Linked DNA regions of Homo sapiens: regions 1, 2, 3 and 4 are each linked to region 5. Evidence: fine-mapped expression QTL. A gene starts in region 5. Each other region holds a variant in brackets. All regions are shown on one strand. Distances are between the middles of the regions.

Evidence for each region. PIP is the estimated chance that this variant, and not a neighbour inherited with it, causes the effect.
Region 1: its variant is fine-mapped to the expression of FBXL4 in whole blood (INTERVAL, PIP above 0.99). The same link has a PIP of 0.9 or more in lung.
Region 2: its variant is fine-mapped to the expression of FBXL4 in whole blood (INTERVAL, PIP above 0.99).
Region 3: its variant is fine-mapped to the expression of FBXL4 in whole blood (TOPMed, PIP above 0.99).
Region 4: its variant is fine-mapped to the expression of FBXL4 in prostate (GTEx, PIP 0.96).

The regions. Positions count from the first base shown.
Region 1 is chr6:98,923,892-98,928,998 of GRCh38, forward strand. FBXL4 (F-box and leucine rich repeat protein 4) reads right to left here. Exons shown (of 10, transcript NM_001278716.2): 3 at 3,814-3,931; 4 at 2,586-3,169. The coding sequence starts at 3,097. Among named protein-coding and RNA genes, the nearest start is that of FBXL4, 22 kb to the right of the region's middle. The variant G/A (reference allele first, on the strand shown) is at 2,633.
Region 2 is chr6:98,907,617-98,912,723 of GRCh38, forward strand. All of the region lies in intron 5 of FBXL4 (F-box and leucine rich repeat protein 4), which reads right to left. Among named protein-coding and RNA genes, the nearest start is that of FBXL4, 38 kb to the right of the region's middle. The variant T/C (reference allele first, on the strand shown) is at 2,338.
Region 3 is chr6:98,983,203-98,988,309 of GRCh38, forward strand. No RefSeq gene overlaps it. Among named protein-coding and RNA genes, the nearest start is that of FBXL4, 38 kb to the left of the region's middle. The variant T/C (reference allele first, on the strand shown) is at 2,006.
Region 4 is chr6:99,407,937-99,413,043 of GRCh38, forward strand. It overlaps PNISR (PNN interacting serine and arginine rich protein), which reads right to left. Exons shown (of 12, transcript NM_032870.4): 4 at 4,615-4,803; 5 at 2,805-3,028; 6 at 1,237-1,408; 7 at 145-335. Among named protein-coding and RNA genes, the nearest start is that of PNISR-AS1, 14 kb to the right of the region's middle. The variant A/G (reference allele first, on the strand shown) is at 2,210.
Region 5 is chr6:98,945,073-98,950,179 of GRCh38, forward strand. It overlaps FBXL4 (F-box and leucine rich repeat protein 4), which reads right to left and starts at 2,874. Exons shown (of 10, transcript NM_001278716.2): 1 at 2,734-2,874. RefSeq lists enhancers at 1,764-1,953, 2,757-3,268 and silencers at 2,394-2,703, 3,001-3,295.

The DNA.
Region 1 (5,107 bases), 21 kb before region 5:
ATCTATTGATTTCATAATCAGTAAAATTTAAAAAGGCTTTTTCTTATATCTTAATAATATATTGGTCACCTTTTTTTCTCTTAAAATGTAATGGTATTTTCAGTAGACTAAAGCTGAAAATCAGTAAAGAAAATTAGAGATACAGGTATAAATAAAGTTTTAACTTTAATCACAACCATATACCAGTAACTCTCAGTAACCCAAGAGCATGATTTGTACTTAAAATTAGTTATGCAGCTGTTAAGTTTTAGACTGGAGAAAACACATTACATGTTCCATTGATCTCCTCCCTAAATCTTTTCAGATTTTTGGAAAAAAGTAGGTAACTTTGTAAGAAGAATGTCAGAGTCCTAATAAAACAATTCTCATATAAGAAAAGATCCTGCCATGCACAGTGGCTCCCATCTGTAATTCCAGCACTTTGGGAGGCCGAGGCAGGCGGATCACCTGAGGTCAAGAGTTCGAGACCAGCCTGCCCAACCTGGTGAAACCCCATCTCTATTAAAAATACAAAAATTAGCCAGGCATGGTGGCACGCACCTGTAATCCCAGCCGCTCAGGTGGCTGAGGCAGGAGAATCTCATTAACCCGAGAGGCAGAGGTTGCAGTGAGCCAAGATCGTGCCACTACACTCCAGCCTGGGCGACAGAGTGAGACCCTGTCTCAAAACAAAACAAAAGATCCTACTCCATTTTTTCCTCTTAGGGAGAAAACAAAAATCTGATTTTAATTAAGGTATGCTGGCTTTCTGAGTTTAAAAAACGACTAATAACATTATTTGCAATGAATTATTAGGTAGTTCTGGAAAAAAAAGTAAAGATTATACCAGCAATCTCCAAGTTGAGCTGTACTCTGTATGTTTTCTGGCAGGCCCTGGAAGTATTCCCTTAGAGATGAGGGGACAGAGATATCAGAGGAGCTGCATGTTACGGAGGTAGCAGCTGACCTCTGCCCGCCTCCTCCTGCACTGGCAGCTGGCCATCCCTACAGTTGAACAGGTGCCCTGATCTGCTCTCAGGCTAGAATGAGAGCGGGAATTTTTATTTATTTTGTTCACTGCTCGCTGACACATCTCTAATACCTAGAACAACACCTAGCACATTAGGTAGGCACTAAAATATTTAATGAACGAGTGATTTAATAAAGTGATATGAAGTCCTAGAAACTGCTAAGATCCATGAGTAATAGAAAAAATGAGCAAATAATATGATCAGATAGTTAAAGGAAAAAGAAATATAAATGGCTTTTAAACATATGAAAAGATTTCAACCTCAGAGATAATAAAAGAATTTTAACAGTTAACATGAGATAACATTTTTCACCTATTAAATTGCAAAAATATTGAAATTTATAAACATACTCTGTAGGCGAGGCTTTGGCAAAACACCCATGTACATGCCCTGCTAGTGGGAATATAAATAGTACAGACTCTTTGGAGAGAAATTTGGCATTACATATGAAAATTACAACTGTTAAAAATTAAAATTAAATGTAACTAAGAATAAATTGTTAAAATGCAAAAAAAAAATGTTAAACATTACAAAATTATCAAATTATCCTTGGTTGAGTAGCCTTCTTCTAGGAAATTTATCCCACAGATATACTTGCACACATGCAAAGTGACTTATGATAAGGTCATTCCCTGCATTAATGTTTATAAGAGCAAAAGACTAGAAACAACTAAGTGCCCATCAATGGGGGACTAGTTAATAAGTTGGGGTTCATACACACTATGCATTACTTGCAAATGCAGGAAAGAATGAGGAAGCTCTCTTTGTACTTACAAGAAAAGATCCAACATATACTACTGTGTGAAACAAGGTACAGAACAGTGTGATAAATATGCTTACTTTTGTGTATAAAAATATAAAATTATATTTGTATTTGCTTGTGTCTGCACAAAGAAATTCTGGAAAGATACAAAATGAGCTGATAAAAGTGGTTTCTTCGAGGGAGGAATGGGTCCTAGGCACATGGAGAACAGGGTACATGTGAGACTGCATTATATTAATATTTTGTAAAATTAGGAGGTTGAATGACAAAAACGACAGCCAAGGAGCTGTTATGCAAAACAGGCTTGTAGGGAGAATGCATGAATTACTTAAAGCAACATTGATTTTTAAATGAATATGGGTGTTGCAAAAACATTCAACTAACGTTAAACCAAATCCCCTAAGGACCTCCTCTGAAGTGTCACTCACAGGCCTATTGTGAGTTGTTGAAAAGATTTAAAAGTAGTAACATGATGCCTGTTTGAAAATATTTTCAAAGTCATATTTCGTACTAACGTCCCAGAATGGCCCATGTCCCTATGAGTTCAAATTGTGCTTTTTGGTTTTGGTAAATTTTATGAGATACAAATATCATAAGCCATGAATATTACAGTATGAGGTATTACAGGTATAAAGCCTGAATTAAATCTTTATATGAGTGATCTCTCTTCCCCATCAGAAAACTAAGGAAAATTTTCAAAATCAAATTCAATTAAGTTACTTAAAAGAATGCTTGCAATAAAAAAGATCTCCAATATTAACAACCAAAACCTTTCTACCATATAACTTAGGTCATTAAAAAATTAGTCTTACCTTACTTCAGCTGGTGGATTTGGGGAATAAGGATTTGCAGAACAAGC[G/A]AGAATTCTAATGACTGCTCCGGGATGATAGGTTTCTAGAACATGTACAGCTGTAGGATACACCTGTTGTTCAAAAGTAAGTTCCACATAGTCCTGGCTCTGAAAATTAGGTGGCGTCCTCTTGAATGGCAAGGAAGCACTAGGACACTGATCCCACCATGTCCCATAAGTTCGAAACACAGCTGTCTGAGTAAAGTCACCAGAACTTGGGAATACATTTGGTACACCAGCCAAATTCCACATAGTATAGGACATACTATTCTCACTTCCATAATGGGAACTGAAATCCACTACTTCTTTGGCATACTGGACTACCTCTGCATTGAGAGGGGAAGTCTGGCTGTTTGATTCTATAGCTCTATGGGTGTTCATCATTTCTCCTCTTGTAGCTGTCCTGGCTCGGCGCCGAAGGCATATATAATAAAACATGGTCAGAACTGTTAACATGGGAAAGACCGGTGACATCTAGATGTGAATTATGAAGCTTCAAAAGGTCAGGTGTCCTCAGTAAGATGCATGAACTCTTTGAAGGATGTTCTAAAAAAATGAATGGCTTGGTGAAGTAAAATAATTTAAATAAGCAGAAAAATGCATGGATAAGGTAATGAACAGGCTCTACCCTCAATGTAATTTCTCAGAATGAAACTAAAAAAACAAGTTTTAAAATACAAATGTGAAGTCTGGTATAAATAAATTTTCTAATGTATTTTTAAGAAACCTAAATATTGTTATGCATACAATATGGGAAGCAAAACTATATTATAAGGCAATTGGAAGATATACAATCCAAAAAGCCGTATTTTATACAAAATTATAACCATCACTCAAGAAATACTAAGTCTTTGAATCTGAAAATTAAAATTATTTAAATTATATGGTGAACCACTAAAATACTGCTGTAAATTCAAAATAATCTTAGACATTGCTGTAATTTTACATGTTAACAAAAATTCCCTACTGTTAATTATTACTCTCTTTCAAACATACAGAATTCAGATTTCACATTATGGGAATATAGTTCTTTGGTGCTGACAGTTAATCCAGATGAACTACATTAACTGCCTTACACATCACAGATCACAGATCAGTGTTTAATTTATAACTCCTAGCATTATTTGTTAGGGCAGTCCATGGCTGGCTGGCATCTGGTTTGTTGCCAGCTACTCTTAGAAATCACTCACCCCAGATAGAATGGTCACAGGATACACATGGGAAATGCAAAAGTTGGCATTCATCCAGGTACCCTGAACTTTGCATGCTGACTTCAGGTACAAATGCTGACATGTGACATTCTTTTACCTGTAAGAAAAGAGTTTTGGAAAATATTTTTATGTCCAAGTCACAAAGTCAAAATATCCAAAATTATAAATAGCCACTTATTCAACCCTTCAAATCAAACAGGCCACATTTTTCTATTTTGTACACAATTTTAAATAATGTATTTTTTAAATGTTATGATAGAATATAATAAAGATTTAATAATGAACGCTATCTATAAAGAGGTTGCAAACTCACAGCTTTTGTTTCAAACTATGTTTGTATACATATTTCACTGAGGCCAAACAGTGTTTTTTAAAAATTTGATCTAGTTTGTAACCTTTAACAATCAACAAGATCCCAAGAGGCATGAGCTCTCTCAGTGGCCACTCTCGTTCCCAGCCAGCTCCACTCATTTACAACATAGGCTGGGGCCCATCCTCATTGAGTAGGTAAACTTTTGTTGACAACAAGGAACTATAAAACAAACTTATTTTTGTACCTGTAAAGTCTTGAGTTTAACTTCTAAGAAGGGAGATGTACCAACTTTTCTTTTTTTTTTTTCGAGACAGGGTGTCTCTCTTGCCGCCCAGGCTGGAGTGCCCTGGCGCAATCTCGGCTCACTGTAACCTCTGCCTCCTGGTTTCAAGCGATTCTCATGCCTCATCCTCCTGAGTAGCTGGGACTACAGGCATACACCATCATGCCCAGCTAATTTTTTGTAGTTTTAGTAGAAACAGGGTTTCACCATGTTAGCAAGGCTGATCTCGAACTCCTGACCTCAGGTGATCTGCCTGCCTCGGCCTCCCAAAGTGCTGGGATTACAGGTGTAAGCCACCACGCCCTGCCCCAACTTTTCTTTAATAGAGCAATGCACTAGTCTTCCAAAACTTCAGCACTAAGATTATAAAACATTATTTGCACTAAATGTCCCTTCCACTGAAAAACCTCCAATGCCTTTTTCTTATCTGCAAGATATAATCTAAATTATTTGGTTTGGTATTTTAAGGCTCTCTTCAAGCTGGACCAATCTCTTCTTGTCTAACCCAGCAAACCCAATCAAGTTCTAACCACTCTTCGTATTTTACGTTAAGTCTCGCTTCCTCTATCATTTCTTTTCCAACCACTTTTTTCCACATCAGTAGCCTTACTTTCTGATACCTACTGGCACTGCATTTTTATGAGATATATACCTTAGTTCCACTAGGGTTTATATTA
Region 2 (5,107 bases), 37 kb before region 5:
TATAAAGGAAAAGATATTAAATATTTGCTAAATGTTAAAAATCTTATTTAGATGAGAGAGGGTTTTTTTTAATTTAATGTATTTATCTAGCTAAACTTTTTGTTTTGCAATTAACCTAAATGCTCTTCTTCAATTTATTTTGTTATCTAGGCTCAGTATTAATTTCAGGTCAGATTTTCACTGTTTTAAGCCAAAATATCACAAAACGCAGAGTAACAACAACATGATCTTTAAAATAAGTTTAAAGAGGGTGTAGCCAGAATCTCCCTTACTCCTGATGTTTCTTAGTAATTTTCTTAGTAATTTACTGACTTTCTAATCTGCTCCTTGGCTATTAATTCCCACTTGCCCATGCTGTTGAACCCAATCTCTCTCAGACACTGCAAAATCCCATTGTAGTGGTCCCTATACCTAGAACGATTGAATAATTTTTCTTTAACAAATCTCATCATCCAGATACACCTGTTGATGTGTAAAATATTACACAAACAAAAATCAAAAATTTCAAGTAAAAAGTAAACCCAAACATTAAAGAAAGGTCTAAAATAAGAAGTTTCTTCCTCTCTACACTCAGTTCTAACCATCCCTCTCCCCAAAGATAATCATTGTTTTTCTGATCTCTTCCAAATAAATGTGTATGAAATTCTGTTCTTGAATTTGCACTAAAAGAATGATACTATATACACCATTCAGCAACTTGCTTTTCTCATTTAATGATATATCTTATAGATCTTTCTATATCTGCACATACAGACCCACCTCCTTCCGTTTCATAGAAGTGACATAATTCAACTAGTTCCTCATTGATGTATGTCCTGCTTTTTTTCCTATTGCAAATAATACTGCAATATCATTGTGTGTATGTATTATGCATGTATGTTCATCTTGGCAAACTTTGAAAATATATCCTTATAGTAAATTACATGCATTTAGAAGTTTTGATGCAAGTGGAGAATTGCCATTCACAATGTTCCCATCAATTTATATATCCATAAAAATTGTATGAAAGTACCCTTTTGCTTATATCCTAGACAACATTGGTATCAAAACGTTTTTATTCTGAAAGACAAAAAAGGAAGAAAAGATATAAAACTGTTTTTATTTGTGTTTCTTTTTTTTTTTAACAACAGAAACATAACACTTTCCCAGGGGAGTTGTCGATACATTTCCCACTATCCTCTTGACCTGTTCCTGGACTCTATTCTGTTCCATTTATCTATATGCTATTTCTCCCATATCAATAGTCCTCCAAGTAAAATAACTAAGTTTTTTAAAGCATATGTGTTGGAATGTCATGGATTGTTTGACTGCAAATGAGAATCAGGACTAATACTCCTCTATCACACTTCTTTTCCAGAATGTTCCTGAGTATTTTCATATTTTTAGGCAAACTTCAATTTTAAAAAATTCTGTTTGCATTTTAATTGGGACTTCATTGAATACACTGATTAAGGAAAACCGATATTTTTACTTTATTGTATTTTCCTACTCTAGGGCATGTTCTAATTTTTTAGCAAAAGTAAATTATCTGCAAAGTCTAAAGTATCTGTGACTCCCCTTGACTAATTTGGCTGTATACTGGACCACCCTGAAGATCACTGGCTGAAGGGATAAAATGCAAATCTCTTGGTGAAACCCAAACAGACCTCTATGACGCAGCAGAATAGACTCCACACTGCCAAAGACAGGGAGTCCCAATCACTGTCATCTATGTGCATGGAGCTGTGCACTGAGGCAGCCCTGAGCCTCCATCCAATTCCATCTCCTGCAGCCTCCCCTATCAAATCCTATGCTTTGGTCACACTGAAATACTGGAGTTTCCAAACAAGTCACACAGTTTCACTTCTCATCTTTGTACCTTCTCTTCCCTTTGCCTCAAGTGTCTTCTGGCCTTCATTCAAATTCTATGGGTCAAGCATTTTATCAGGTCTGGATAAAATTCAATAAACTGTTTAAAATGTATTTGCTGAAATTATATTTCTATTTTACAGTTTTTGCAAGTGGGTAAGAATCAAAGCAGCGATTCACTCTCCTCCAGATGAATTGCTCCCACTGCTGCAACAACAGACCCACCGCAGAGCCCTGAGGAGCAACACTGTCAGTATCTCATGCTCCTCTCTCTCCCCAAACCCAGCTTTTCCTTCATCTTTCCTCCCTCCTCCCAGTAAAGGCCAGTTTTGTCCAATCTGTGAAGCTCCCTTTCCATCACATGAGGTCTGGGTGGGATCCTGGTCCCATGGCTTAAAGACCAAATTAACTTGGACACTTAAATTCACCTTTATGTGGCAACTTTAGCTACTTCACAGGATGTGCCATGGCATTTTAACTGTAATATGT[T/C]GGAGAGGCATTATAGTTACTATTACTCTAAGACATTCAAAAGGCTATCTTACTGTTTCATGAAAGTTAAGCTATTTGTGTTATTTCCATGAAATCTGAAATACACATCAATTTGGAAAAGGGATATCTAAGTTGGTTAAAATTTGAGTCTATAAAGTTTCCTTAAAAAGAAAACTGATATACATTTTTAACCACACAGTAGTTTTCAGTGGGAGACAGAAATGCTTGGCCCTACTCTCACCCCTAGGAATATTTCGAAACTGGTGGGGAGAGGTTTTCATGTCACACAGCCCTAGAATGCTACTAGCATTTGATATCTGGGAGCCTGGGATGCTAAAATACCTCAGAAACACCCCAGTAGGGACACACTGAAAACAGGACTTCAGACTAGACAAACAAAAAAGTATTAATAATTCCAGGCCGGGCACGGTGGCTCACGCCCATAATCCCAGCACTCTGGGAGGCCAAGGTGAGTGGATCACGAGGTCAGGAGATCGAGACAATACTGGCTAACACAGTGAAACCCTGTCTCTACTAAAAATACAAAAAAAAAGTTAGCCAGGCATGGTGGCAGGCACCTGTAGTCCCAGCTACTCGGGAGGCTGAGGCAGGAGAATGGCATGAACCCAGGAGGCGGAGCTTGCAGTGAGCCGAGATGGCACCACTGCACTCCAGCCTGGGCAACAGAGCGAGACTCCATCTCGAAAAAAAAAAGAAAAAAAAAAAGTATTGTGGGGGGAGGAGCCAAGATGGCCGAATAGGAACAGCTCGAGTCTATAGGTCCCAGCGTGAGCAACGCATTAGACGGGTGATTTCTGCATTTCCATCTGAGGTACCGGGTTCATCTCACCAGGGAGTGCCAGATAGTGGGCGCAGGACAGTGGGTGCAGCGCACCGTGCGCCAGCCGAAGCAGGGCGAGGCATTGCCTCACTTGGGAAGCACAAGGGATCAGGGAGTTCCCTTTCCTGGTCAAGGAAAGGGGTGACAGATGGCACCTAGAAAATCGGGCCACTCCCACCCAAATACTGCGCTTTTCCGAAGGCCTTAGGAAACGGCGCACCAGGAGATTATATCCCGCACCTGGCTCGGAGGGTCCTACGCCCACGGAGTCTCGCTGATTGCTAGGACAGCAGTCTGAGATCAAACTGCAAGGTGGCAGCCTGGATGGGGGAGGGGCGCCTGCCATTGCCCAGGCTCACTTAGGTAAACAAAGCAGCCGGGAAGCTCAAACTGGGTGGAGCCCACCACAACTCAAGGAGGCCTACCTGCCTCTGTAGGCTCCACCTCTGGGGGCAGGGCACAGACAAACAAAAAGACAGCAGTAACCTCTGCAGACTTAAATGTCCCTGTCTGACACCTTTGAGGAGAGCAGTGGTTCTCCCAGCACGCAGCTGGAGATCTGAGAACGGGCAGACTGCCTCCTCAAGTGGGTCCCTGACCCCTGACCCCCAAGCAGCCTAACTGGGAGGCACCCTCCAGTAGGGGCAGACTGACACCTCACACGGCCGGGTACTCCTCTGAGACAAAACTTCCAGAGAAATGATCAGACAGCAGCATTCGCGGATCACGAAAATCTGCGGTTCTGCAGACACTGCTGCTGACACCCAGGCAAACAGGGTCCGGAGTGGACCTCTAGCAAACTCCAACAGACCTGCAGCTGAGGGTCCTGTCTGTTAGAAGGAAAACTAACAAACAGAAAGGCCATCCACCAAAAACCCATCTGTACATCACCATCATCAAAGACCAAAAGTAGATAAAACCACAAAGATGGGGGAAAAACAGAGCAGAAAAACTGGAAACTCTAAAAAGCAGAGCGCCTCTCCTCCAAAGGAACGCAGTTCCTCACCGGCAATGGAACAAAGCTGGACGGAGAATGACTTTGACGACTTGAGAGAAGAAGGTTTCAGACGATCAAACTACTCCGAGCTACAGGAGGAAATTCAAACCAAAGGCAAAGAAGTTAAAAACTTTGAAAAAAATTTAGACAAATGTATAACTAGAATAACCAATACAGAGAAGTACTTAAAGGAGCTGATGGAGCTGAAAGCCAAGGCTCAAGAACTACGTGAAGAATGCACAAGCCTCAGGAGCCCATGCAATCAACTGGAAGAAAGGTTATCAGTGATGGAAGATGAAATGAATGAAATGAAGCGAGAAGGGATGTTTAGAGAAAAAAGAATAAAAAGAAACGGACAAAGCCTCCAAGAAATATGGGACTATGTGAAAAGACCAAATCTATGTCTGATTGGCGTACCTGAAAGTGACAGGGAGAATGGAACCAAGTTGGAAAACACTCTGCAGGATATTATCCAGGAGAACTTCCCCAATCTAGCAAGGCAGGCCAACATTCAGATTCAGGAGATACAGAGAACGCCACAAATATATTCCTCAAGAAGAGCAACTCCAAGACACATAATTGTCAGATTCACCAAAGTTGAAATGAAGGAAAAAATGTTAAGGGCAGCCAGAGAGAAAGGTCGGGTTACCCACCAAGGGAAGCCCATCAGACTAACTGCTGACCTCTCGGCAGAAACTCTACAAGCCAGAAGAGAGTGGGGGCCAATATTCAACATTCTTAAAGAAAATAATTTTCAACCCAAAATTTTATATCCAGCCAAACTAAGCTTCATAAGTGAAGGAGAAATAAAATACTTCACGGACAAGCAAATGCTGAGAGATTTTGTCACCACCAGGCCTGCCCTAAAAGAGCTCCTGAAGGAAGCACTAAACATGGAAAGGCACAACCGGTACCAGCTGCTGCAAAATCAC
Region 3 (5,107 bases), 38 kb after region 5:
AGTATATAGTCAATGAAAAAACTGACACCTTCTTAAGACCAGAAATAACCACATAACACACTAGCTGCAAAGCCTTCCGTCTGGGTGATAGCAGGCTGTATTTTGCCTTTTGAATTACATTATTTCTTACAGCCCTATTTGGCTTCATTCTTTTCACAAGAAAGCTAAGGAAATTTTTTCTTTTAATAAGAGCTGAAAAAATCCTAGATTTTCCCAGAGGCTGTGTTATGTGTGAGGGTGCCCAGGCAGGGGCAGGAGTGCTGGACTGAGAGCTGGGACATCTGGATCCCACTTTGCTAATTGTGATTGGAGTTTGCCTCTTAATCGCTCTCTACCTTTATGTCTTCATTGTTAAAATAGGAATACTAATAGACGCCCTGCCTGCATAGTTGTTATGAAGATCAAATGAATTAATAAATGGGAGAGTGCTTTGGAAAAGTTAAAAGTGCCACTCAAGCGTTAGTTATTCCTATTTGGCTTTCATATTCTTTGGAAACCTCGTTTATAATAAGGCTTTCCTGGAAAAGTAGCTGTTTCTTGAAATCCCATGAAAGCTTTGTCTTTGTATTATCTCTTATGGGTTCCTTTGGAAGTTCAGCAAGTTTCTCTGTTCCCTACTGTGCTGTGCATACATTGCCCAGAGTGATTCCAGGGCCAGCCCTGAAATGGGCAGCCTGCTCTGCACATGGTCTGCTCAGTGAGGGCTGGTTCTATGGTGTCGAAATTAAAAACACATATGCTGTTTGTAGTGTTTTTCCGATACATTTTCAATAGAACATTTTGAAATGACAGAAATGTACAAAGAAAGAAAAAACATAAACTACCCTTAATCCTACTACCCAAACACAAACATTGTTAACATTTTAATATACCTCATGTATATCCTTCTGGCTTCTTTCCCACGTATATATAGCACACATTGTATATTTGACAATATATGTGTTATTATGAACTGAATGCTTGTGTACTCTCCAGATTCAAATATTGAAGCCCTAAGCCCCAGTGTATTTGGAGATAGGGCCTGTGGAAGGTAGTTAATATTAAATGAGGTCAAAAGGGCAAAGCCCTAGCCTGATAGGACTAATGTTTTTATAAGAAGAGATACCAGAGAACTCCCTGCCACATCCCTTCCCAAGCCATGTGAGGTCACAGCAAGAAGGCAGCCATCTGTGAGCCAGGCAGACAGCCCTCACCAGGAACCAGATCAACTGACACTTTGATCTTGAACTTCCAGCCTCCAGAACTACCAGAAATAAATTTCTGTTGTTTAAGCCACCCAGTTGATGGTATTTGTTACGCCAGCCCAGCCCAAGCAGACTAATTCACACATATTAATACACTTCTACATCATTTAGGGTTTTTTTGCTTAATACATTGTGAACATTTCTCCATGCATTGACAATTCTACAGTGTGATTTGAATTACTTTAAAATATAGCAAAATATGGATACAATCTAATTTTTTTTAGCAATTCTCTACTGTTGGACATTTAGAGGATTATAATTTTGAGCTATTTAAGTAATGCTGTGATAAACATCCTTGGATATTTATCTCTTTGTATAGCTTTCATTCCTCAAAGTAGAAGTGCGGGATTAAAAAGAATGAATACTTTTAGAGCTTTTTATATTTATTAAAATGTCCTCCAGAAAGACTGTATGACTTCACACCTCTACCAATAGCTATTTGAGGTTGCCTATTTTCAAGAACTCTCACCAACAACAGTCGCTATCACTGTAAATTGATATTTATCAATTTGAAGCAAAAAGGTATCTCATCGCTATTTTAATTTGTATTTTTAATTACTAAGCTATTGAATTATTCATATATGTTTGTTTGGAATTTATTCTGTAGGGATAGAAAGGAAAGAATCTCCCTCTTAACATATTATTACAATTATAAACAATTTTATTATTAAAATTTTAATTTTCTAATATGTTAGATACTTACTTTGTTTTATGAGATACACCAAATGTAATCACCAATCCTGTGATTTTCAACAACACAC[T/C]GACATAACCTCTCTGCTTTGCCTTTCATAATTCTGAGAAAACCCCAGAAATATAAAAATGTTTAAGGTTTCATGGAAGCCAGAATTTAAAAATTTAAAAATTTAAAAATAAGTGAGTTTAATTTTATTACCTGAGTGCTTTTTTCTCTAGCTTTAGTTATCTATTTCTCTTCATCACGGCACATAATAGATGAAAAATAAATATTTGTAACATGACTGAATGGATTAACAGGGTAATCATCTACTGTTTTCTCAAGTAGAAACAAATAACAGCCAGCTCTGTTCTAAACCACTTTAAATTAATGACTATCATCCCCTCCATGTCTATCCCTCATGTAATCCTCCTTTACATTCTCCTCTGTAATGTTAAACTTGACTTTTTTCCTCCAAGATCTCCTGAAAGACCACATTACTAATGAACAATGAGTGGCTAAGGGTTCCAGGGATTGCTCTTCCAATTCTCTAACTCAATGGCCAAGGCTTTGGCTCAGTTTCAAGTAACGAGGGGGAAAATTAGGGAAAGTGTGTACAGTTCACAATTTCTCCAAGTCAGGTGGAGAACAAGTGGCATGTAAAGCTCTCTATTTATTCTTTTGTTTAATCAGTAATTGACATAGAAAATTTGCCATAAATTGGCATTGGAAAATTCATTTTTTTTCAGCATATTACCCCAGGAGGCTTTTTGATCTTTATTTTCTTTTGACTGTGACTAACCTTGATCTACCCTTCACTTTTGTCCATTCCCAGTGAAATATATTTTTATAAAATTAGCATCTATTTTTTGGTCATTTGTAAAGAAGCAAGTACCGAGAGAGCTGTCATGACATTTTTGATACAGTTAAAAAAGAGTTAAAAGAAATTGCCTTCAAAAAGACCAGTACAAAAGTACTCCTACATGTACTAGGCTTTCAGATGCCTCAAATATTTTCATGAATGAAAGCCCTTTTGGTTATTTTCATTATAGAAGAAATTCTTTTATGGAAAATTCAAACTAACAAAGGAAGCTCAGATTGCAATTCTAACATTTTTTAGCAGAGTTGACCAAACATGAGTCCTAAATTGACGTATTATGAAACACAATAAATAAGGTTTCAAAGGCTGGCTTAACACTGCAAAGCTTTTTTGAAACAGATCTCTCCTTTATGTATCTATCTTTCTCAAGTTCATGGATCATAAGAGGACATGGAATTTGGAGGCCTCTGGTTATTCTTACAATAGTCACAGCTACTGGGGAGCTGAGCAGTGAGAGTCAGTCACTTCCCATAGAATCATCTGCAGTGAATTGTCCTCATTGCCAGCTTGGAAGTGGAAGAGGCTTTATATTGCATGACCTGGCAGAGTTATTAAAAGACTACATTGGCATTGTGAAAGGTTAATTGCTAATAGATAAACAGTTCAACTCAAACAGTTTCTGTTGAATTCTTACTCTGTCCAACGCACAAAGATGGTAGTGTTGACAGCTGTAGCATGGGTGGGGGTGATGGTGATGGAGGTTGAGTTGGTGGTATGTGTGCGTCTGTGAGGGGGAGAGAGTTACAAAAAGGAATGACCTAGTCCCTGACCTCAAGTATGGTCAATGCTCTAATGGAGGCATGGCCAAAAGCTGTGGGAGCAAAGGGGCAGGAGACATCTATTCTAAAAGATGAGGAAGCGGTGTGGATCACCCAGGAGTTCAGTGGTTCTCGTTTCAGGGTACAAGAGATCAAAATTAAACTCAGTGGAGTGGATCAAGAGGCAGAGGACAGTTTTAGAAAGAAAGAGGTCTTGTAGGTAGCCAAAGGAGTATAGCTAAGACAGATTAAGAATTAGTCAATGAGAGAGACAGACAGACAGACAGAAGAAGGACAAGAATCTGGGCCAGCCCAGGACATTCATGTAGGTAGATTATTATACCTTAGAACCTGAAAGGACTTACGGCTAAACTCCTGGAGAATGTTTGCTCTAAACTAGAATGTTTGGAGAATGTTTGCTCTAAACTAGAGTGTAATCTCCATGGGGGTAGCCAATTTTTCTGTTTTCTTTATTGCCCCCATCCCCCAAAAAGCACCTGGCACTAGTAAGCCACAAAAATATCAGCAGAAAGAATATACGAATATATGGGATGGAAGACTTATAGAGCCAGAAGGGAGGCCTGTGTTCAGAAGCTGGGGTTTGAGGAAATGCCTCCCCTCCTCCCCTCAAGATGTCAGGTGGTAGCATAAATTGTGAACAGTAAACTGAAAAATGTGAAAGATATAATAAGATATTAATTAGAAATATTTTTTATTCCCCTGGAATTGGCATCTAGGACCCAAGACTGAAACTAAAGAGGAATCAATTACCTCATATTATAAAGAGATCAGAAAACAATTAAAAACAAATACCTCCTCAGAGCTTATTAAGAATTGGCCAAACAACAGGGAGGGAGAATTCAAAGGAATTACTGGAGTCATAAGTTATCAACTCAGTGGGGAACACTGTGAGTTTTCTTTCTATTTCCTCTTTCCTAACAGTTTCCAAATTAGGAAGAAGGCTTTAAGAGGATTGCTTGTAGAGATTGTCTGTCAAAAGAAGAGACTGGCCTCTCACTCTCTGGTTGAACATGTACTTACATTACTCGCAGTGCCTTTTTGAGTAGAAAGAACAGAGCGAGATGGCAAGGTGAGGAGAAGACTATACAAGTGGCCTTACTCCCACCATTTGGTCTGGCAAAGATGGCTGGGTTCTCCATGGATCAAATGGACACAAAGGACATAATTAGCTGAACTTAACTCAACAGTGAGAGGACACTGGAATCAAGACATAGTGGGGTGTATTCCTAGAGAAGAAAGTAGGGGCATTGGAAGAGATGAGCCAAGTGAGCCTCAAAAGTCAGGGCACGGTGCAGTGGGACATGCAACATCCCTGCAAAGTCTCCTAAAGAGCAAGAACCCTCATTGTCGAACACCTGGAACACCTTCATCTCATGAGAGAGACAGGATATGGATACCTGCCACCCAGAGGGTCATTCCTGGCCAGGAAAGCAGAGACAGCTGACAGGCCCATGGCTACACCCAGGTAAATAAGAGCTTCTGTTCCCTTTACATTGTCCTCCTCCTTGTGCAAACCTGTGAGAGGAAAAGG
Region 4 (5,107 bases), 460 kb after region 5:
AATCAGAATCCTCAATATACTTAATGAACGTAATCTTAGGAACATCACTCTAATACTTTCCTATAGGCTAAAATATCTATTTCAGTAAAGTTTTCACACAACCAAGATTTTCACATGGAGTTTCATGTTGGGGATTCTACTTACAAATTTACTTCTCTGAGGTAAACGAGGGCCATCCCCTCCTTCAGCATCTTCTGTGGCCTTTTTTTCTTTTTTGGACAATTGTGAACGTTGTTGTTCCATTCTTTCTTTCTCCAATTTCTTCTGCTTTTCACGTTCCATTTTTTCAAGACCTTCGCGAATCCAAGCGGGAAGAGTCCTGCGTTTTACTGCGTCTGTTTCACGTGGGAAAAATATACGCAAGTCAGTTAAGTAAAATATTTCTACAAACTTGTGAGTAAATTTAAAAAATATCCCATTAAATATCATGCCTTTCTTCAATGCCATCACTTTTAGTAACAGCAGGGACCACTGCTCTAGTGCTTACAATCTGCCAGGACACAATGAAAGCATGTTAAACCATCATCTAATTTAATCCTTACAAAAGCCCTCAGAGATCACTACTATTACTCCACTTTTTTCCACAGGTGAGGAAACTGAGACTCGAAAAAATTAAGTGATTTGCTAGTAAGTTAAAAAAGGAGTAAAGTTAGAATCTTCCTAAAATGTAAAAAGTAAAGATTTATTAACAAATGCTCCTGTCCATTAAATACTGAACAATTTAGAACTTTCCAGATATAAAGTGGCATAAATATGTATTTGTCACTTGAAATAGGCTGGCTCTATAATGTTATTTAAAAAATTGAAATTTTCTGCCAAAATACTTAAGGGAAGTGAAATAACCAGAGGAAAATTAATCTGACAGCAGTGCATCAGATGAACTAAGAGTGGACAGAGATTGAACAATTAGATTTAAAAGGAGAAGGGCTCATATATCTGTATAATGTACTGAAATGCCTACACTGAAGAAAATACCAACATGCTATGGCTAGCATAAATTTTCACTTCATCACAAAATCTGGAATTTAATGTAAAGGTTTAAATAAAATTATTTAAACCTTTTAATTTCAGACCAGTATCATTTTTGTAATTTTAAGCTTTATGACCATAAAAAATAAAGTGTCAATTCCTAACACATCAGAGATACTCAAACAATTTTAAGAAAACAAGACATCCTTTTTATATGATAAAAAAGTCATGCCAATTGTGGTCCACTAAACTAAGTTAAATAGCTACCAATTTGTGGAGGCTCCTGCTTCACAGGAAGTGCAATAGGTGAACGCTGACGATCCCTGAATGATGATGGCCTTTCTCTTCGATTCTGGGGAGGTGCTGGAGGTCCTGGAGGTCCTGGTTGCCAATAAGGAGGATGAAATCCACCTTGCGGTGGACCAAAAGCAGCCCCATGCTGAAAGAGTATTGCAGTTTATTTTTTCTTCAAATTAATACAATATACTCTCTGGGACACACGTGTGTTATGAACTGGGACAGTAGAAATCCATGTGTGCAGCACATCCAAGAATTCCATGGCTCTAATATCCACCGATACTTCTATGGTCCCAAGAACCTAGGCTTACTTGTCTTAAGATTTTCCGGCTATGTAAATGCAAAGAGGCTTCTAAAAGCCAGCTGATAAGCTACTTTCAAGAAGTATATGAAATTTTTCATTCTGAATCCATTTACAAGCTAATCCTACCAACACTAAGACATCAAATAGATACTAATTTCTCTTTAACTAGACATTTTTGTCAATTTCAACATCCTACTTACAGTGAACAAAAAGTGAACTAAACAACTTAAGCTGTTTCTATAATCTTGCAGATATATTCATTTATAAGCAAAGATAGAAGTTAATGAATCATTAAATATTTTCTGCAATTTTGCTATTTTCAGAGGCTTTTCTAGGCCAGCTGCCAATACAGCTCTTTGTCTTGTTTACATGGGATCTACCATGCAAAAGTAGGGTAAGCAGATGCTCCCTGCCATTATATTTCTTCAAACAACATAAAAACTGTTGTATCTGTATACCAAGTATACAAGTATCTGAATATTTATTAATGAGAGGATTACCATCTCAAGGTGAATACTAGATGTCCATTATCAAATCTACCCTAGAATTCATGAAATAATTCTTTCAAAATTTTAAATTATGATAGCAGTTTATAAGTTAATAATTGCAATCAGTTATTTCAAAATGACACCTAGCACT[A/G]TAATTTAAGGGTAGACCCTGGCAGAGGGAATGAAGTAAATAAAGCCCAACATACAACACTATTCCCCACAGAGTTCTATGTCCCTAGGAATGAATTGGATGCTACAGAGGAAATTATATACAATTCCATTAACATGTCATGTCAGAATGGAAAAAAAATGACACTAGAAAAACAGTCATAATTCTACATAGCACAAGGAATTACACTTAGGAAAATGATCTATATTTTTTATTCATGTCTTAACCATGAGCTATATTCAATTACTGTGCATTCTCTAGTCTTTAACATTTAAATATACCATTTTGAAATATAAATTAGAAAATAAAACATCATATAGCTATTGCACTTATACATTTTTAATTTTTTCAAAAGTTTTCCGTAATGATCTTTTATACCATTTTCCTAATGAAATAAAAAAATCAGAAAACAAATTCTAATTATTTTAATACTCAAAAATTGATAACTGAGACAGAATGTGCTTATTTATACAAGTCTGAAAAGTGAAACACGTATCTTAGGTATTCTTGATGAGACACTTCCAAAGAATGGATTACGTGCACATCTACAATATTAAAGCAACAAAATATCTTTCACCTGATAGTCAAACTGGTTCACTGGCCCCACTGCAAAATTATCGGGTGGTCCACCAAAGTTGTGATTGTTCTGGTTAAATATATGCCTGTTGTCAGGGGCAAATTCCCCACTGTCCTGACTGTTGCTGTCTTCAGAAGGAGGAACAATGTCCATTGGGCCTGGTGTTGGTGGCATCCATGGCTGATCTGGAGGGGGGTGTGGGGGTTGCTGATGCATTCCCCATTCTATTTAAGATTTAGGCATAAAAACATTCAACAGGCGGTTATAACAAAATCAACACAGAATTTTAAGATCTCAAGAAAGATTTTTCAGTAAACATACAGATTTAAAAAACAACTTATGACTTCTTGGTCAAATTCCTTTTGTTTATCTTAAAAATAAGCAATGAACTAAACTGTCATATATAATTCAAAATGAGCTAACTCCACTCTAATTCATATCCTAACCAAATGCCCAAAGTTATTTTTAACAAATGTAACAAAATCCAAAGCACTATTTTTGTTGAATTTTTATATTTGTTTAGTAACAACACCACAAAAATAATACCTTGAGGTTTTATATAATTTCTTTCTTACACGAACACATTTATCCTCACAACATCCCTGTGAGGTAGGGAGAAATTAGGTATTATTTTTGCCAATTTCGGGAGGGAAAATCGAGGCACACAGAGGTAAATCACTTGCCCAGGGTCACAAAGTAGAGTAAAACTAAGGGGTAGGGATGCCCGCGGGAGTCATTTAAGAACTTAAACTTAGGAACTAAAACATTTTCAAATGTGGGGAAATTTCACTTTCAAGAAAGCTAGAAATGAACCACCTCACAGTATCAAAGACTAGAATATTTATGTTTTTAAAAGTAATCTGAATTCTCGTTTTTTTTGTTTGTTTGTTTTAAATGAGGGACTCATTCTGTCACCCAGGCTGGAGTGCAGTGGCGTGATCACAGCTCATTGCAGTCTCAATCCCCTAGGCTCAAGCAATCCTCCCACCTCAGCCTCCCAAGTAGCTGGGACTACAGGCATGCGCCTCTATGCCTGACTAAGTTTTAAGGTTTTTTTTTTTTTTTTTTTTGTAGAGACAGGGCCTTGCTATGTTGCCCAGGCTGGTCTCGACTGAGGTCTCCATTCTTATAAGGAGAAACAAAAAGTATTAATAGGGAAAGGAGGTTATGACTTCACCATCAGCATACCCAAATGAGAGGCTGATTCCTCCATAGTTTCAAGTGACTATTAAAAAGGAATAACACAAGCCATGGAAGACTGAATTAGCATCAAGAAATCTACATCATACTGTGAAATAAAACAAACAAAAAAGTAAAACACACAAAAACTTATGAAAGATCTTCACTATCTGAAAAAAAAAAAGGGAAGAAAAAGGTAGGCGGATGGTAGGGGCAGAGTATATTTGACAGACTAATTTGTCACACAGTGACACAATTTTTCTTTAATTAGAGGCTAGACATGTTTTACTCTGCCAGTGCTGCTTCTGAAAAGGCCAGAGGTTGCAATAGAGAGACAAAGAATGCTCTCTTCCCTAGATGCCAAGTGAGGTTTCCAGAGTGTTCCCAGCCCCTGTCAGCCTAGGAATGAAGAACCAAGAAAAGAATCAAACTGAGTGCCACAAAGCTAGCAGAATGAGTACAGAATAATTTTAACCACAAAATGTCAAAGTCAAATCAAATTGAAAACTGCCTATTCTTTAAGAAGCATTAATTTCCAGAAGTCATACAACTAAGCAAATTAAAAAATTTAATAATAATCTTCATTCTGTTTTTTAAAAGTCTTAAAATTGTGAAAACATAAACAACAAACCTGGTTGCCACATTCTGTTGAAGTTTGAATCCCCTTGGAAATTCCCATGATTGTTTGGACCAGATTCCATTGTAGACATATCTTGTCCATTTGGCATCATTCCTGGTGGTTGTTCTACCATGCTTTGCTGTCCTGAAGCTTCTCTTTGGGCAATCCAAGCTTGGGCCAATGCAGCCCAATCAATCTGGCCTAACGTAAATTAACACTGACTTCAGCATTCAGAATGTAGGAGTTAAAAGAATAGTGCCTCTATGTAAAATAAGCAGCTCAACTATTCCTTAGATCTTAAATATTTCAGACAGAGAGGGTATGAGGGAAATTAGAAAAATTTTTTTTGAATGAGATCTTAAATATTAAAGCATACTGTGTCTGAAAGGGTACTTAGCAAATAACCCATATTCAGGCTAAAAAATAATATAAACTACTTACACTTTCAGGAAAGAACTCCACAAAAAACACTCTTAACCCATTTCTAATATTAATTCATATAAAA
Region 5 (5,107 bases):
TTACCAACAACTTTTGAGGAGCACTTTGGCAGAATCTCTCATAATTTAACACTTATGTGTAGCCTCTGACCTAGCAATTCCATATCTTAGGAAATGAACTAACATGCAAACATGACAGTATACAGAATAAACACAAAAATGATCCTTGCAGTTCTGTTTGTAATAAATTTGGAATAATGCCAACAGGGGACTGGCTAAATAACTTTTGGGTTATTCCTACAATGAAATACCAAAAGACTTACAAAAAAGACAAGATACTATTATATGCACTGACACAGAAGGATGTTTATCAATTATTATTAAGTGGAAGCTATAGAAAATTATAGATGGTACACTGCCATTTATGAAACAAAAGTAGACTTAAATATATTTATTTTTAAAATCTGCAAGCAGTGATCATCTTTATGGAACAAGGTTACTGGGTAGGTGGGCACACAGCACTTTCACTTCCTCCTTTAAGGATTTCTGTATTGCTTGATCTTTTTTAAAGAATGCATACATTTATTTCATGGGCTAATAAAGTTTTAAGTGTCCAGTGTAAAATTTATTATATTTTAGATATCCAGTTGTGATGGTAAAATACAAATGGATATGAGGATATCTTCCTCATATCCCAGGGAACACTTCTACAGCCATTTATCTCTTAGATAACCATTTTTCTCTTAGAAACCAGGTACAGAACATCCTAAATCACAGGTGATGGGGAGAGACACACTACAGTTACTATGACACGGTGCAAAGTCAAAAGGCATGCAGATTTTTAATCAGGCTGCTTCTCTATGTAACTGTAAGGAGCAACTCTAGTCGCAAGTTCTGAATGAGCAACAGAAGGGATTTATTTACTAACAGTTAATGATTCAACTGACCATGGAAAAAGCAAGCTAAAATAAATGAATCTCAATAACTGGCAGGAAAATTTTAAAGGGGGGAGGGAGGCAAGAGGTAAAGAAAGGGAATCAACTTGCCCCCACTAAATGTGTTCATTTCAAAAATATTTAGTGATGTCTACAATATGCCAGGCATCGTTCAAATCCCTAGATATTAAAACACATTATAAACCTAGAGCAATAAGAGCATCACAGAAGCCAGGATCACCACAGGGAGCCAAAGAATACTAGACCGTTCAGAAAGTCCCAAGAATACACGGGAATTTAGGGCCTATGGTATTTATAGGACTGATCAGCAGGGAAAAATAGAATTCCAACAAATGATGATGGAGTCACTAACAAAATTATAAAGTTAGAGCCTTCTTATCTCACATTAAATATAAATAAGATCATTAACAATACTAGAAGAAAACGGAGGTGGATATTTATATACAATTCATGTAGATAAAGGCCTTTTTTAAAGGACACTGTGTTAGATCCGCGAAGTTAAGATCGAGAATGTTAACCGCAGCAACATTAAGAGGATGAGACTAACACAGTAAAGAAAGAAGGGGCAGTTTTTGTTAACTGACCATATGTGCAAGTACCATATGTACCATTGTACAGAGTACTATAATCGCATTATTTCATCACGGCGTGAGTAAAGAAATTATCCATCTTACAATGAGTTGACTTATCTGATTTTCAAATAACAGAAGGGAAGAGTTTGAAAATGCAGAGTTCAGAAAAGCCAACTTTTGGCGCAGAAGTTTAAAACAAAGTTAGTACTCAGAACATAAGTATGGAAAGAAGAATCCAATTCAAGGAACTTTTAGAGTGCCTACTAAAGCATAATGCACATTTCCCTCAAGTCCTTAATCTGATAAAGGACTATTGGAGCGCTGATGACTCTGGATGAATCTCTCTCTACTCAACCAACAGATACAATATGCGGTACAGGATAATGGAGGCAGGAAGTGAGCCTGAAAGAAAAAAATATATACCTATAGCTGAACTTAAGAAACCAAGGAGTGCACGCAAGAACCAGAAAAGGCAGCTTGTGTCTGTGAACAGACCAAAGCAAGCAGAGATCCCTGCACCTGGTGGTAATGTGCCCTCCGGAGCACAAAGCCAGACGGGCATCCTGCCAACGCAACTACCTGACCACAGGCTTATACCATCTTCACCTTCTATAATAGTTATTTGTATACTGTATTTCAATCTGTGAATGCATCTCGAAGGTTTGTGGCAATGATTACTGGGAAATCAAGGAAATCCAAAACCACCCGTTATAAATATGTCGACAAGGAGGCCAAGTAGATGGTCATCATCACACTCTAGGGGCACCCCTAAACCTAAACACAGAAACAAGGTTGTAGCTGGGCACCCTGTAGCAGTCCTGAAGAAAGAAAACAGGCCTGGTTAGGCAAAAACCATCGGATGTCAGAGGGAAATCAAGGCAGCAGGCACAGGAATCACAAGCACAGGCGGGCATGTGGCCGACGCGTGGCTGCCGGCGCAGCACTGAGCGCGGGTGTGGGGCGACCCGCAGTCCCCCGCGGTGTAAACAACCCTGAGCCGCGCACACGTCCGAACGACGCCTCACAGCCTGCAGGCAGACTGTAGCGTAGAAAGAGCCCGAGGCACGTCAGCAGTTCTCAAGGGCCCCAGCAAGCCCCGCAAGCGTGAAGCGGAGGCGCGGGGGCGCGGGGCCGCGGGCGGGGAGGGGCGGGCAGCGGGGGCCTCTGCCAGGCGTCCAGACTCCCCAAAGCGCGGAGCTGCGCGCTGGCTCGGCCCCGGCCCCGCCCCGGCGCCAAAGGAAGAAGACAGAGACCCACGGGAGGGAGAAGTAAAGGAAGGGCCGTACCCTGCAGGGTCCGGGAGAGGCGCGCGCCGCGGGCTTCACCAGCGACCAGGCAGCGCGAGAAGGCCTGGGTGCGGGGGCGGCTCCCCGACTCTCTAGATGCGGCACAACCGCCGCAAGCCCGGCCTAGCGCGACCCGGAAGGAAGACGCGGAGGCCGCGAGGAGCGGCGGGCCCGGGGAGGCGGGGCGGAGCCGGGGAGGAGGGGCGGGGCCGCGGGGTTGGGGCGGGGCCGGGGAGGCGGGGCGGGGCCTGGAGGGAGGCGGGGCGGGGCCAGAAGCAAAGCCGGGCGTTTCTCCCATGGGAGGTGCTCTGGGTCCTACGGACAGCCCGCTCCCAGGCCAGGGGGAGGAGCTTTCTGCTGGCTTCCTAGCTCCAGTGGTGCCCGTGTAAAGGGCCTAGGTCATACACAGCGGGTAGTGTCTACAAATCCTCTTCGGAATAATCCCTTCCGAGTACCGGCTCGCCATGTGTAGTGTGGTCCTACAAGGACTTCTTCAGTCCAGACTTGGTGGATCAGATGATACATAGGTAATACGGCTGGTACGCATACGTAGAGGAAAAGTATAATATACATTATATGCACTCTGAAGGTATAATTCACCTAGTTTACAAACCTCCTCTTCCCTGCATACAAATCCTGCCTGCAGGCTCATTTCCATACCAACGTTCAGAAGCCTCTGACCATTACCTCTGATGAAGAAGATGGTCTGGCAGCCTCTCTTACTCATTTTGATTTATTTTTGGTAGATTCAGTATGGCACTTTATTTATTTATTTATGTATTTTTTGAGACGGAGTCTCGCTCTGTCGCCAGGCTGGAGTGCAGTGGCGCGATCTCGGCTCACTGCAACCTCCACCTCCCAGGTTCAAGCGATTCTCCTGCCTCAGCCTCCCGAGTAGCTGGGACTACAAGGGCGCCAAGCTAATATTTTGTATTTTTAGTAGAGACGGGGTTTCACCATATTGGCTAGGATGGTCTTGATCTCCTGACCTTGTGATCCACCTGCCTCAGCCTCCTAAAGTGCTGGGATTACAGCCGTGAGCCACCGCGCCCGCCCTTGGCACTTTTTTTAGTTTGCATCATATTTATCTTGTTACAAAATATCCACTAAGATGGAAAATATTTAATAAAATGTTGAACTACACATTATTTGCTGTCTGAATGCTCCAATGAGGCAAACCAGTAAGGATATTTACTTATATATGAACAGAATCAATATATGATATGCAATATACATTGTATACAAAAAAATTAAAATTTTTATTTTCTTCAACTTTTTGATGCATAATAGCTGTACATATTTTCAGGGTATATGTGATAATTTGATTCATTTCTGTAATCAAATCAGCATAACTGGGTTACTCATCCCCTTAAATATTTATCTTTTCTTTGTGCTAGGAACATTCAAATTGTTCTCTTCTGGCTATTTTGACATGTACTATTGATAAATGTTAGCTGTAGTCACCCTACTGATCTATGGAACACCGGGTCTTATTTCTTCTAAGTGTATGTTTCTTCTAAGTGTATGTTTACCTCCCCTTGCTCCCCCATGGCCCACCCCCCCAATACTTCTCAGTCTCTGAGATCCACTTTCTGAACTCCCACATATGAGTGAGAACATGCATTATTTGCCTTTCTGTGCTTGGCTTATTTCACTCATCATAATGACCTCCAGTTCTATCCATGTTTGTTGCAAATAAAAGGATTTTGTGGAGGGTTTTATGGCTGAATAATATTCTATTGTGTATATGTACCCCATTTTCTTTATCCATTCATCTGTTGCGCGGACACTTAGGTCAATTCTAAATCTTGGCTATTGTAAATAGTGCTGCAATAAACATAGAAGTGCAGATATCTCTTTGATATATGTATTTCCTTTCTGTTGGATCTATACCCAATAGTAGAATTGCTGAATCATATAGTAGTTCTATTTTTAGTTTTTTGAAGAATCTTCAAACAGTTTTTCACAGTGGCTCTAGTAATATTCATTCCTGCCAACAGTGCACACGGGTTCCCCTTTCTCCACATTCTCACCAGTATCTTTTGTTCCTGGCTTTTTTTTTTTTTTTTTTTTTTTGATAAAAGCCATTCTCACTGGGGTGAGATATCTCATTGTTTTGATTTGCATTTATCTGATGATTAGTGATAAGGAGCATTTTTTCATATACCAGTTGGCCATTTGTATGTCTTCTTTTGAGAAATGCCTGTTCAGATCTTCTGCCCATTTTTTAATTGGATTATTTGTTTTTGTTTTTGTTTTTGTTTTTGCTTTCCTATTGAGTTGTTTGAGCTCCTTATATAAAATATTCTGGTTATTAATCCCTTGTTAAATAAATAGTTTGCAAATATTTTCTCCCATTCTGTGGGTTGTCTCT